Linked DNA regions of Homo sapiens: region 1 is linked to region 2. Evidence: fine-mapped expression QTL. A gene starts in region 2. The other region holds a variant in brackets. All regions are shown on one strand. Distances are from middle to middle.

Region 1 (5,377 bases), 44 kb after region 2:
TAAAATGGCTTTCAGAATTTCTGCAATAATCTTAATGGAGTCTTAACCACACTTCCTATGGTCCATGGTTAAATATGCAGACTCTGAGATCAGATAGGTTGAGTCTGAAATCCTAGGTGTACTATTTATCAGCTATGTTACCTTGAGACAACTTACTTGACCTGCTGGTACACCCATTTCCTCATCTATGACAGGGGGATAATAATAGTTACTAACCATATAAGGTTATTATGAGGTTATTAGATGTGTTAATAACCATAAAGTGTTTTGGGTAGTACCTGGCATGTAGTGAATATTCCATAAGTATCATTGTTTTTATTTTTTTTTATTTTTTGAGATGGAGTTTCACTCTTGTTGCCCAGGCTGGAGTGCAATGGTGCAATCTTGGTTAACGGCAACCTCTGCCTCCCGGGTTCAAGTGATTCTCCTGCCTCAGCCTCCCGAGTAGCTGGGATTACAGGCATGGGCCACCACGCCTGGCTAATTTTGTATTTTAGTAGAGATGGGGTTTCTCCATGTTGGTCAGACTGGTCTTGAACTCCCGACCTCAGGTGATCCGCCCGCCTTGGCCTCCCAAAGTGCTGGGAGTACAGGTATGGGCCACCGTGCCCGGCAGTTGTTTTTATTTAAGGGCCTACCTTTCACCATTATCTTCTGCTGTTCTCCTTCATGAGCTCTGCATTCCAGTTCCACAAGGCCACATTCAACTATTCATGCAATAAATATTCATGAAGCACTTGCAAAATGTTTAGCACTAGCTATGGGATTGTGGATAAAATGACAAAACAAATGAACATTACAATATAGCAGGGGGACATAAGTTAAACAGATATAGTATGCTTTGGAAACATGATCAGGGAAGTAGACTGAAGGTCCGAGAAGTCTACCTTGAGCAAGTGAGGTCTGAGTTGGGACTTGAGGGATGAATGTGAGTTAGCCATTGAAGGAGGAAGGGAGGCTTTACTGTGCCCCAATCTTACCTTACACTTTCCCTCTCCAGGGCTTTGATGGCTCAATTCCCTCCCCACTAGAATGCTCTTTATTTCTGCTTATTGAAATGCTATAAGCTTTTCAGGCCCAGCTAAAATGTCTGCTCCTCAATAAAGCCTTCCCTGAACGCTCCAGCTGAAGGCAGTTTCCCATTTCTACGCACCCCCCCGCCACCCTGGCACTTAGTTTTCATTTTCCTTGGACACTTCTCACTTTCTGCTGTATTTTTTGGTTATTTATAAACACAGCTTATCTTTTTCTACTAAATCTTAAACTTTTTAAGAACAGAGTCTATTTCTCATTCATCTTTGAGTTCCCAAAGGCTAGCACATTCCTTAGATTTAGAAGTCCTGGAACAAATGTTTGTAGCATAAATTAATGCCTATTTGACATCCCTTTTCAAATATGTTGTAATTCAAATGAAGCTATTGTTGCAAGCTGTGCCTTTGAGGCTCAACTTACTCTTTGGTTAAACCAGAATGCCACAGTCATGGTCCCCATGACTGATTAGTGTTCACCACAATAACTGCAACAACCCTAACAAACAGGCCACTGTTCTTGACTGACAGGCGTTTGGCAACAACTACCAATTCTCCAGTGAACACTGAAATGAATTGAGGAAGAACTGTCTGAATTGAGAGTCCCTAGGCCAGTAGGCTCTATTTATTCTTTGCAGTTGGGCTGCAAGAGCTGGTCACCCAGGCTTTGGCCTGATGTGAGACATGACTGCACTGGGTGGCAGTGAGGCTATGAGACTTTCCAGGGTGACAGAAACATTAATGATTGTAACAAAATAATCAAAGATCAGTATCAGTGGAAAGCACTGTAATTTGAGGCAGTGTGATAACAAGGGAAAGGGAGCTTTGAACTTAGACCTGGGTATGGATCCTAACAGGCTATGTTATCTCACCCACGTCCCTTCTTTAAGTCTCAAGATTTAATTAAAAAAAAAATCTGTAAAACAGTTGTGAAAATCAAAGATACTGTCTTTACACAATGCTCATGTTCTATTAAAATGTGTTTATTCATCTATCTTACCCAACATATTTTCTTCTCTGAGGGCAGGGACTTATTTATGCCCCATTTCTGCAAAATCAAGCAAAGTGCTTAGCACACAGTAGTAGACACTGACAAGTACTTTTTTTTTTTTTTTGAGACAGGGTCTCGCTCTGTTATCCAGGCTGGAGTGCAGCAGTACAATCATGACTCACTGCAACTTCCACTTCCAGGGCTGAGGTGATTCTGCTACCTCAGCCTCCCGTGTAGCTGGGACCACAGGCATGCATCACCATGCCTGGGTAATTTTTTTATTTTTTGTAGAGACAGACTTTCACTATATTGTGCAGGCCAGTCTTGAACTCTTGAGCTCAAGCGATCCGCCCACCTCAGTGCCCAAAGTGCTGGGGCTACAGGCGTGAGCCACCAGGCCAACCACAGATACTTTTAAAACAAATTGTAGCAGGAGGAGCCTCAGACAAAACTCCTCAGACACCGAGTTAAAGAAGGAAGGGGTTTGTTCGGCTGGGAGCATCGGCAAGCCTCCTGTCTCAAGAGCCGAGCTCTTCAGGTGCTCAACTTGTGCTTTTAAGGGCTCACAACTCTAAGGGGATCCACATGAGAGGGTCATGATCGATTGAGCAAGCTAGGGGGTACATGACAGGGGCTGCAAGCACCAGTGGTCAGAGCGAAACAGAACAGAACTGGAGGTTTCACA[A/G]TGTCTTTCCATACAATATATGGAATCTATAGATAACATCAGTTGCTAAGTCACGGGTCGAATTTTAACTACCAGGCTTAGGTCAGGCAGGCCTAGGCCTGGTTTCAGGTGTGGTTCCTAGGCACTGGGCTACCTGCCTTTAGTTTCTCTTCTCTTTCCTTTTCTGAGTATAGAACAATATGAGAGGGTCTCTCTCTTCCCTCAAAATGAACAACAATAATAGCTATCATTTATGGAATACTTACTCATGTCAGATATTGTTGTAAATAGTAATTCACTTAATCCTCCAACAACCTTAGAAAGGAACTAACTTAATTTCACAGAAAACTGAACTTTTTTTTTTTTTGAGACGGGGTCTCACTCTGTCACCAGGCTGGAGTGCAGTGGCGCGACCTCAACTCACTGCAACCTCCTCCTCCCGTGTTCAAGCGATTCCCCTGCCTCAGCCTCCCGAGTAGCTGGGACTACAGGTGCGTGCCACCACGCCCAGTTAATTTTTGTATTTTTAGTAGAGACGGGGTTTCACCATGTTGGCCAGGATGATCTCAATCTCTTGACGTGATCTGCCTGCCTCGGCCTCCCAAAGTGCTGGGATTACAGGCATGAGCCACCGCACCTGGTCAACTTTTTGATTTTAGAATATAAAAGTCTTGATACAACTAATTTTGAAATAGCCTGGTGAGACTCACTCTATTCAATTAAAAAAATGTAAAATATCTTTTACAATATGAAAAAGAAAAAATATGGTGGAGGGAGAAAGAAGAAATAAATTTAAGAGTGGGAGAAAAAAAGTAGGAAGAATAGAGACAGACGTGGAAAATGAAGAAAAAGTAAATTTTGAGTGGAGTTAAAAGAAAACTGTTTAATCATAAGATACTGTGTGCATTATCACTGCCCTTTAGAAATAGTAATTTGAGGCCGGGCACGGTGGCTCATGCCTGTAATCCCAGCACTTTGGAGCCCGAGGCAGGTGGATCATGAGGTCAGGAGATCAAGACCATCCTGGTCAACACGGTGAAACCCCGTCTCTACTAAAAATACAAAAAATTAGCCGGGCGTGGTGGCGGGCGCCTGTAGTCCCAGCTACTTCGGAGGCTGAGGCAGGAGAATGGCGGGAACCTGGGAGGCGGAGCTTGCAGTGGGCCGAGATGGCGCCACTGTACTCCAGCCTGGGCGACAGAGCGAGACTCTGTCTCAAAGCTAAAATAAAATAAAATAAAAATTGGAATTTGCCACTGGGTGTGGTGGCTCACGCCTGTAATCCCAGCACTTTGGAAGGCCGAGGCGGGCGGATCACGAGGTCAGGAGTTCAAGACCAGCCTGGCCAACGTAGTGAAACCCCATCTCTACTAAAAATACAAAACTTAGCCGGACACGATGGCGCATGCCTGTAGTTCCAGCTACTCCGGAGGAGAGGCAGAAGAATTGCTTGAACCCAGGAAGCAGAGGTTGCAGTGAGCAGTGATTGCACCACTGCACTCCAGCTTGGGCAACAGAGTGAGACTTTGTCTCAAAAAAAAAAAATTGTAATTTGCCAATTCATCACTCCTCCTGGTTTTTCAGCTTTGATTTCATCCTTAATTTTTTTTTTCTGTTTATGAGACACAGTCTTGCTCTGTCTCCCAGGCTGGAGTGCAGTGGCGTGATCTCAGCTTAATGCAACCTCTGCCTCCCCGGTTCAAGTGATTATCCTGCCTCAGCATCCCGAGTAGCTGGGATTACAGACAGACACCACCACACCCAGCTAATTGTTGTATTTTTAGTAAAGACAGGGTTTCACGATGTTGCCAGGCTGGTCTCCAACTCCTGACCCCAAGTGATCCACCTGTCTCGGTCTCCCAAAGTGCTGGGATTACAGGTGTGAGCCACCATGCCCAGCCTTTACATTTTATTCTTTTTTTTTTTTTTTTTGAGAGGGAGTCTCACTCTGTTGTCCAGGCTGGAGTACAGTGGCACAATCTCGGCTCACTGCAACCTTCGCCTCCCAGTCTGAAGCGATTCTCCCTCCTGCCTTAGCCACCTGAGTAGCTGGGATTGGAGGCTCACGCCCCCATGCCCGGCTAATTTTTGTGTTTTTAGTTTTGTGTTTTTAGACAAGGTTTCACCATGTTGGCCAGGCTGGTCTTGAACTCCTGACCTCAGGTGATCTGCCCACCTTGGCCTCCCAAAGTGCTGGGATTACAGGCGTGAGTCATTGCGCCCGGGCTTAACTTTTTTTTTTTTTTTTTTTTTTTTTTTTTTTTGTGGTGGAGTCTCACTCTGTTGCCCAGGCTGGAGTGCAATGGCACAATCTCGGCTCACTGCAATATCCGTCTCCCAGGTTCAAGTGATTCTTTCGCCTCAGCTTCCTGAGTAGCTGGGATTACAGGCACCTGCCACCACTCCCGGCTAATTTTTTTGAATTTTTAGTAGACACGGGGTTTCACCATGCTGGCCAGGCTGGTCTCGAACTCCCGACCTCAGGTGATCCTCCCGCCTCGGCCTCCCAAAGTGTTGAGATTACAGGCGTGAGCCCCTGCGCCCAGCTGATTAACTTTTATTCTAACCTCTGAGAATGACAGAAGAGGAAAGACTTGTCTTTCAGAGTATGACAAAAACTGAAGAGGTTTTCATCTAGTTAAAAAAAAATGGGGAGAAAAAATTATCTCTAAAAAGTGAGTGGCATGAGCAAAA
Region 2 (5,377 bases):
AGGCAACAGAGCGAGACCCCATCTCAAATAATAACAATAATAATAAATAAATAAATAAATAAATATTGGAAAGTTCACTGAGATCAATTATGTTAAACATACTATATGAAGAAACTCCTACTTGTGATAATATTCATCTGAAGCCATTTAAACAGGAGAAGTTCAGGTGGGTAATGAGTGATGAGCATTTACTATGTATTAACAACATGCTACAAACTGGGATACAATGATCGAGCTATTACAGTGAATAAGACTATAGAACACAAAAGAAAGGTTTTAAGGGAGTGTGTGGTATAAATCCTTTTTTTTTTTCTTTTTGAGGTGGAATCTCGCTTTGTCGCCCAGGCTGGAGTGCAGTGGCATGCATGATCTTGGCTCACTGCAACCTCTGCCTCCTGTGTTCAAGCAATTCTCCTACCTCAGCCTCCCAAATAGCTGGGATTACAGGCACACGCCACCATGCCCAGTTAATTTTTATATTTTTGATAAAGACAGGGTTTCACCATGTTGCCCAGGCTGGTCTCAAACTCCTGACCTCACGTGATCCGCCCGCTTTGGCCTCCCAAAGTGCTGGGATTACTGGCACAAGCCACCACGCCCAGCCGGTATAAACCCTTTTTTAAGGATATCTTTTCACTTGAACAGAAACAAACTCAACATAGAGAAAAATTAGTTGAAATATGCAAGCTTTGGCTATTCGGTGTAATAGTCTCAAAACTGAAGTATCCTCAGGTGTGGGCCAGCATTGGATTTGGAGTCTGAAGACCTGGGTTCAAGTCTTCTGTTCAAAAATAATATACAGGGTCAGGCACGGTGGCTCAAGCTTGTAATCCCAACATTGCGAGCCCAAGGCGGGTGGATCACCTGAGGCTAGGAGTTCGAGACCAGCCTAGCCAACATGGTGAAACCCCATCTCTACTAAAAATACAAAAAGTAGCCGGGCGTGGTGGCAGGCACCTGTAATCCCAGCTACTTGGGAGGCTGAGGCAGGAGAATCGCTTGAACCCAGGAGGCAGAGGCTGCAGTGAGCCGAGATCATGCCACTGAACTCCAGCCTGGATGACAGAGTGAGACTCCGTCTCAAAAAAAAAAAAAAAAAAAAAAGGTAATCAACAGATGCCTTCCAAAGTGCTTTCAACTCAAAGCCCATTCTCAGACTAAAACAATAGCAAGCATCACCATTTTACAGAATGAGAAATCAGTCAATGTTAAGCTTAGCAGCTCTTACAAGAATGCAATCAGTAGCAAAAGAAAGCTTAAATACAGGTAATCTGATTTTTCAGCTTACTGATCTACTAAGGAAAACTGCACATCTTTTCATAACTAAAGCGTTTCTGAAACTGCAGCATACATTAAGCATTTCATATGCCGCCCATTAAATAACTAATATATTCTATTTCACAAACAGGAAAAGAGGTTGAACACCATTATGTAAGTAGTAACATAGGATAGTACCCCTGTTCTCTTATGACACATTCTTAACAGTACTGGTTTTTAAGGCGAGGGAGAAAAGAACCAGGAAGTGGACCAGTGGGAGATAAACACAGGTTAAAATCCCGTCCAAAAAAAAAAAAAAATTTACATCTTCATAATGGCATCCAAATTCAAGTGTTTGGGTTTTGGCTTTTTTACCTAACAATATACTGTTGTGACTTGACTTTTCCATTACCGTGTAATAATGTTTCTTTCCTATTGGAAGCAATCTCTCCTAATCTCCCAAACCTAAAGTAGAATTATTCATTTCATCTTCTTCCTAAATGAGACCTCGACAATATGCCATATAAAGGAAAATGGGCTCTTAGGCGTTTCTCCTTCTTAGTAAAATGCCAATGCAACATATGCCAACACTGGAGACAAAAAAATTCTACTTGAATTTACTGTGAAAAAAAGATTTATAGCATTTTTTAAACCTACATGTTCATTTCTGTGCCATTAACTTTTTGAGGCATTCTACAGAGTCTCCAACAAAGAGAGAAATAAGTATTAGGATCACAACCTACGAATCTGGGTGGAACAAAGACTTCTCCTTTCATTATGCAGAGAAAACCAAGTTGCCAAAAAAAAAAAACGGTCCCCTCAGATACCATGCACGGTTACTAACTGCACGTCTGGGTACAGAGAAGGAAAAATCATCTGGTCAAAAGCCCAAATGCCGCCCCGGCCTACCCTCGCCCCCCGCCCCCGCCCCCTTTGCCCATGGCCTCGCCCCAGAGCTAGAGTTCCAATATTTTTCTCCCCAATAAAGGGAAGCGGTTTAACCCTTTGAGTTCCACAACCTTGCGTTCTTCTACGCAGGCGCCCCTCCAGCGCAATCCCAGTTCTAAATCGAGTCGCTGCCCCTTTCCGCGACCACACCCAGATCCCCAAAGGCCTGCTCCCATCCCGACCATTGATGTGAGAAAGGCCAAAACCGGCCCCAGCGGGGCTCCCAGCCCCGCCGCTCCCTCTCTTCCTCCGGGCCAAGGCGTGCCCAGAAAGGGACGCGAGCGCGCCCCTCAGTTCTCGCACGGGCTCGACCAAGGGGCGAGGAAGGAAGAATCGGCGCAGCGGCGAGATGGGCACGAACCTCGCGCTCACTTGCTGCTCAGTGCCAGGGCGAGGGGCGTCGCTCTGCCCCCAGAATCCAACTGGTAATGTGGGAAAGGTGTGGTCCAGGACCGGTGACCTCGAACCGGGGCCCAGCAGTTCGCAGATCCTCACCCCGCGATGCTGGGGCCTCACCCACGACCCCAGCCCCCTCCCAGTCGGCACCCAAGCCCACTAAAGACCCCTCTCCGGGGCCGCAAACACAGTCCTCGGGGCCGCCCGGTCGGAGCCGTGTCAGGTGGTGACAGGAGGCGACGGGTGACCATGGCAACCCGAGGTGTGCAGCGGACCGACCCAGCCTCCGACTCCCGGAGTCACCCACCTGAGGGCTCCAGGGCAAGCCCGGAGGAGCGGCGGAGGAGAACGCGGCTGGGAGGCCGGCGGCCAGGGCCCCGAAGCGGCCGGCTCCGGGCTGCGGCAGGAGCACGACGGCGGCGGTCTGGGTTTGGCGTCGGTCCTCCCTCCTACCGCCCGCGCGTCAATCCATCAGTTCGTCAATCCGTCCTTCTCACGTCCGCCCCTCCCGGCCCAGCGACTCCTCAGCTCAGCCTCTTGCAGACTGCGGTTGTCAAGTGCCGGGGAGCCGAGCTCTACCCGCGAGCGGCAGCCAATCGCCGCGCTTCCCCGAGGCGCCTCAGGACCCCGCCGCGCGGGGCGGCCAGGCAGGTGCCTGAGCCGAAGGGCGAGTCGGCGGGGCGGGGCGGGGCGGGGAGGGGCGTGGAGGGGCGGGCCCAAAGCTGGGGCGGGGAGGGGCGGGGCGGACCAAAGCCTGGGCGGGGCGGACCAAAGCCTGGGCGGGGCGGGCGGGGGTCGGGCTTGGAGGGACCGGCTAGGGGCCCGGGGGAGTAGCAGAACGGGTGCGGCAATAGCGTGAGACTGGTGGCAGGGACGTAGACCCTTAGCTGGCCGGTGACCCCATGTCCCAAAATAGCACGAACAGGATTGTCGCCTGCAAATGGAGAAGACTGCGCATTAGGATTGACTCTTCATACTCCTCCCCGATAATTAATAAAGGTTAATGAAATTAATGTTGCCTTCTACCCTTCTTTCGCTGCTTTCCTAGGTCCCACTTCGTCCCAGAAAACTCCAGTAGTTTGTTTGTCCCCTTCCTGGTTTCTCATTTTGCAAAGCTGATCTGCCTTGAAAGCATTTTTCAGTTACTTAACATTTAATATGTTCAGGTTTTGTCTACTCCTGTTGGTTGTAAGCCCCTTATTCCACAAATATACGTGATGTTCAACCGAGCTTAATTAAGCATCCAGGAAGTATAACCATAAGGAAGAATACAATTACACAAACCTGTAAGAACATCATTCTCGGCCAGGCGCGGTGGCTCACGCCTGCAATTCCAGCACTTTAGGAGGCCGAGGCGGGCGGATCACCTGAGGTCAGGAGTTTGAGACCAGCCTGGCCAACATGGTGAAACCCCGTCTCTACTAAAAATACAAAAATTAGCCGGGTGTGCTGGCAAGCCTCCTGTAATCACAGCTACTTGGTAGGCTGAGGCAGGAGAATCGCTTCAACCTGGGAGACGGAGGTTGCAGTGAGCCGAGATCATGCCACTGCACTCCGGCCTGGGTGACAGAGCGAGAGACTCCGTCTCACAGAAAAAAGAACATCATCCTCACAGAGGCGAAAGTCCAGAGTGAGCTGGACCTCCCAAAAGGGGAAAATGGGGTAACAGTCTGGTAAAGAGAATAAACATCAAAAATATTTCTGGCACTCCCATGCTTATTGCAGTACTATTCACAATAGCCAAAATATAGAATCAACCTATGTCAATCAACAGACAAATGGATAAAGAAAATGTGGTACATATACACAATGCAATCTTTTTTTTTTTTTTTTTTTTTTGAGACGGAGTCTCGCTCTGTCGCCCAGGCTGGAGTGCAGTGGCGCCATCTCGACTCACTGCAAACTCCGCCTCCCGGGTTCACGCCATTCTCCTGCCTCAGCCTCCCGCGTAGCTGGGACTACAGGCGCCCGCCACCAGGTCCGGCTAATTTTTTTTTTTTTTTTTGTATTTTTATTAGAAACGGGGTTTCACCGTGTTAGCCAGGATGGTCTTGATCTCCTGACCTCGTGATCCACCCGCCTCGGCCTCCCAAAGTGCTGGGATTACAGGCGTGAGCCACCGCGCCCGGCCACACAATACAATCTTATTCACCCATTAAGAAAGAATGAAATCCTGTCATTTGCAGCAACATGGATGGGACGGGAGGACATTATGTTAAGTGAAACAAGACAAGCACAAAAAGACAAATATTGCACGTTCTCACACATATGTGGGAACTAAAAGAATTGATCTCGTGGAGGTAGTGAATAGAATGGTGGTTACCAGAGGCTAGAAAGTGTAGTGGAGGGCAAAGGGGGGATAAAGAGGTTAATGGGTACAAAAATACAGTTATGTAGCAGGAATAAATTCTAGTGCTCAATAGCATAATTGGGTGACTATAGTTAACAATAATCTATTCTATATTTCCAAACAGCTAGAAGAGAAGATTCAGAATGTTCCCAACACAAAGAAATAGTAAATGGCAGGCCAAGCGTGGTGGCTTATGCCTGTAATCTCAGCACTTTGGGAGGCCGAGGCGGGCAGATCACGAGGTCAAGAGGTCAAGAGATCGAGACCATCCTGGCCAACATGGTGAAACCCTGTCTCTACTAAAAATACAAAAATTAGCCGAGTGTGGTGGTGTGCGCCTGTAGTCCCAGCTACTCGGGAGTCTGAGGCAGGAGAATCACTTGAACCCGGGAGGCGGAGGTTGCAGTGAGCCGAGATTGGGCCACT

The links. PIP is the estimated chance that this variant, and not a neighbour inherited with it, causes the effect.
Region 1: its variant is the best candidate, but not a certain one, in a credible set for the expression of WDR47 in whole blood (TOPMed, PIP 0.53).

Annotation. Positions count from the first base shown.
Region 1 is chr1:109,082,577-109,087,953 of GRCh38, forward strand. TMEM167B-DT (TMEM167B divergent transcript) reads right to left here and starts at 2,174. Exons shown (of 2, transcript XR_947688.3): 1 at 639-2,174. The variant A/G (reference allele first, on the strand shown) is at 2,705.
Region 2 is chr1:109,038,954-109,044,330 of GRCh38, forward strand. WDR47 (WD repeat domain 47) reads right to left here and starts at 3,149. Exons shown (of 15, transcript NM_001142551.2): 1 at 2,909-3,149. RefSeq lists a silencer at 2,797-3,346.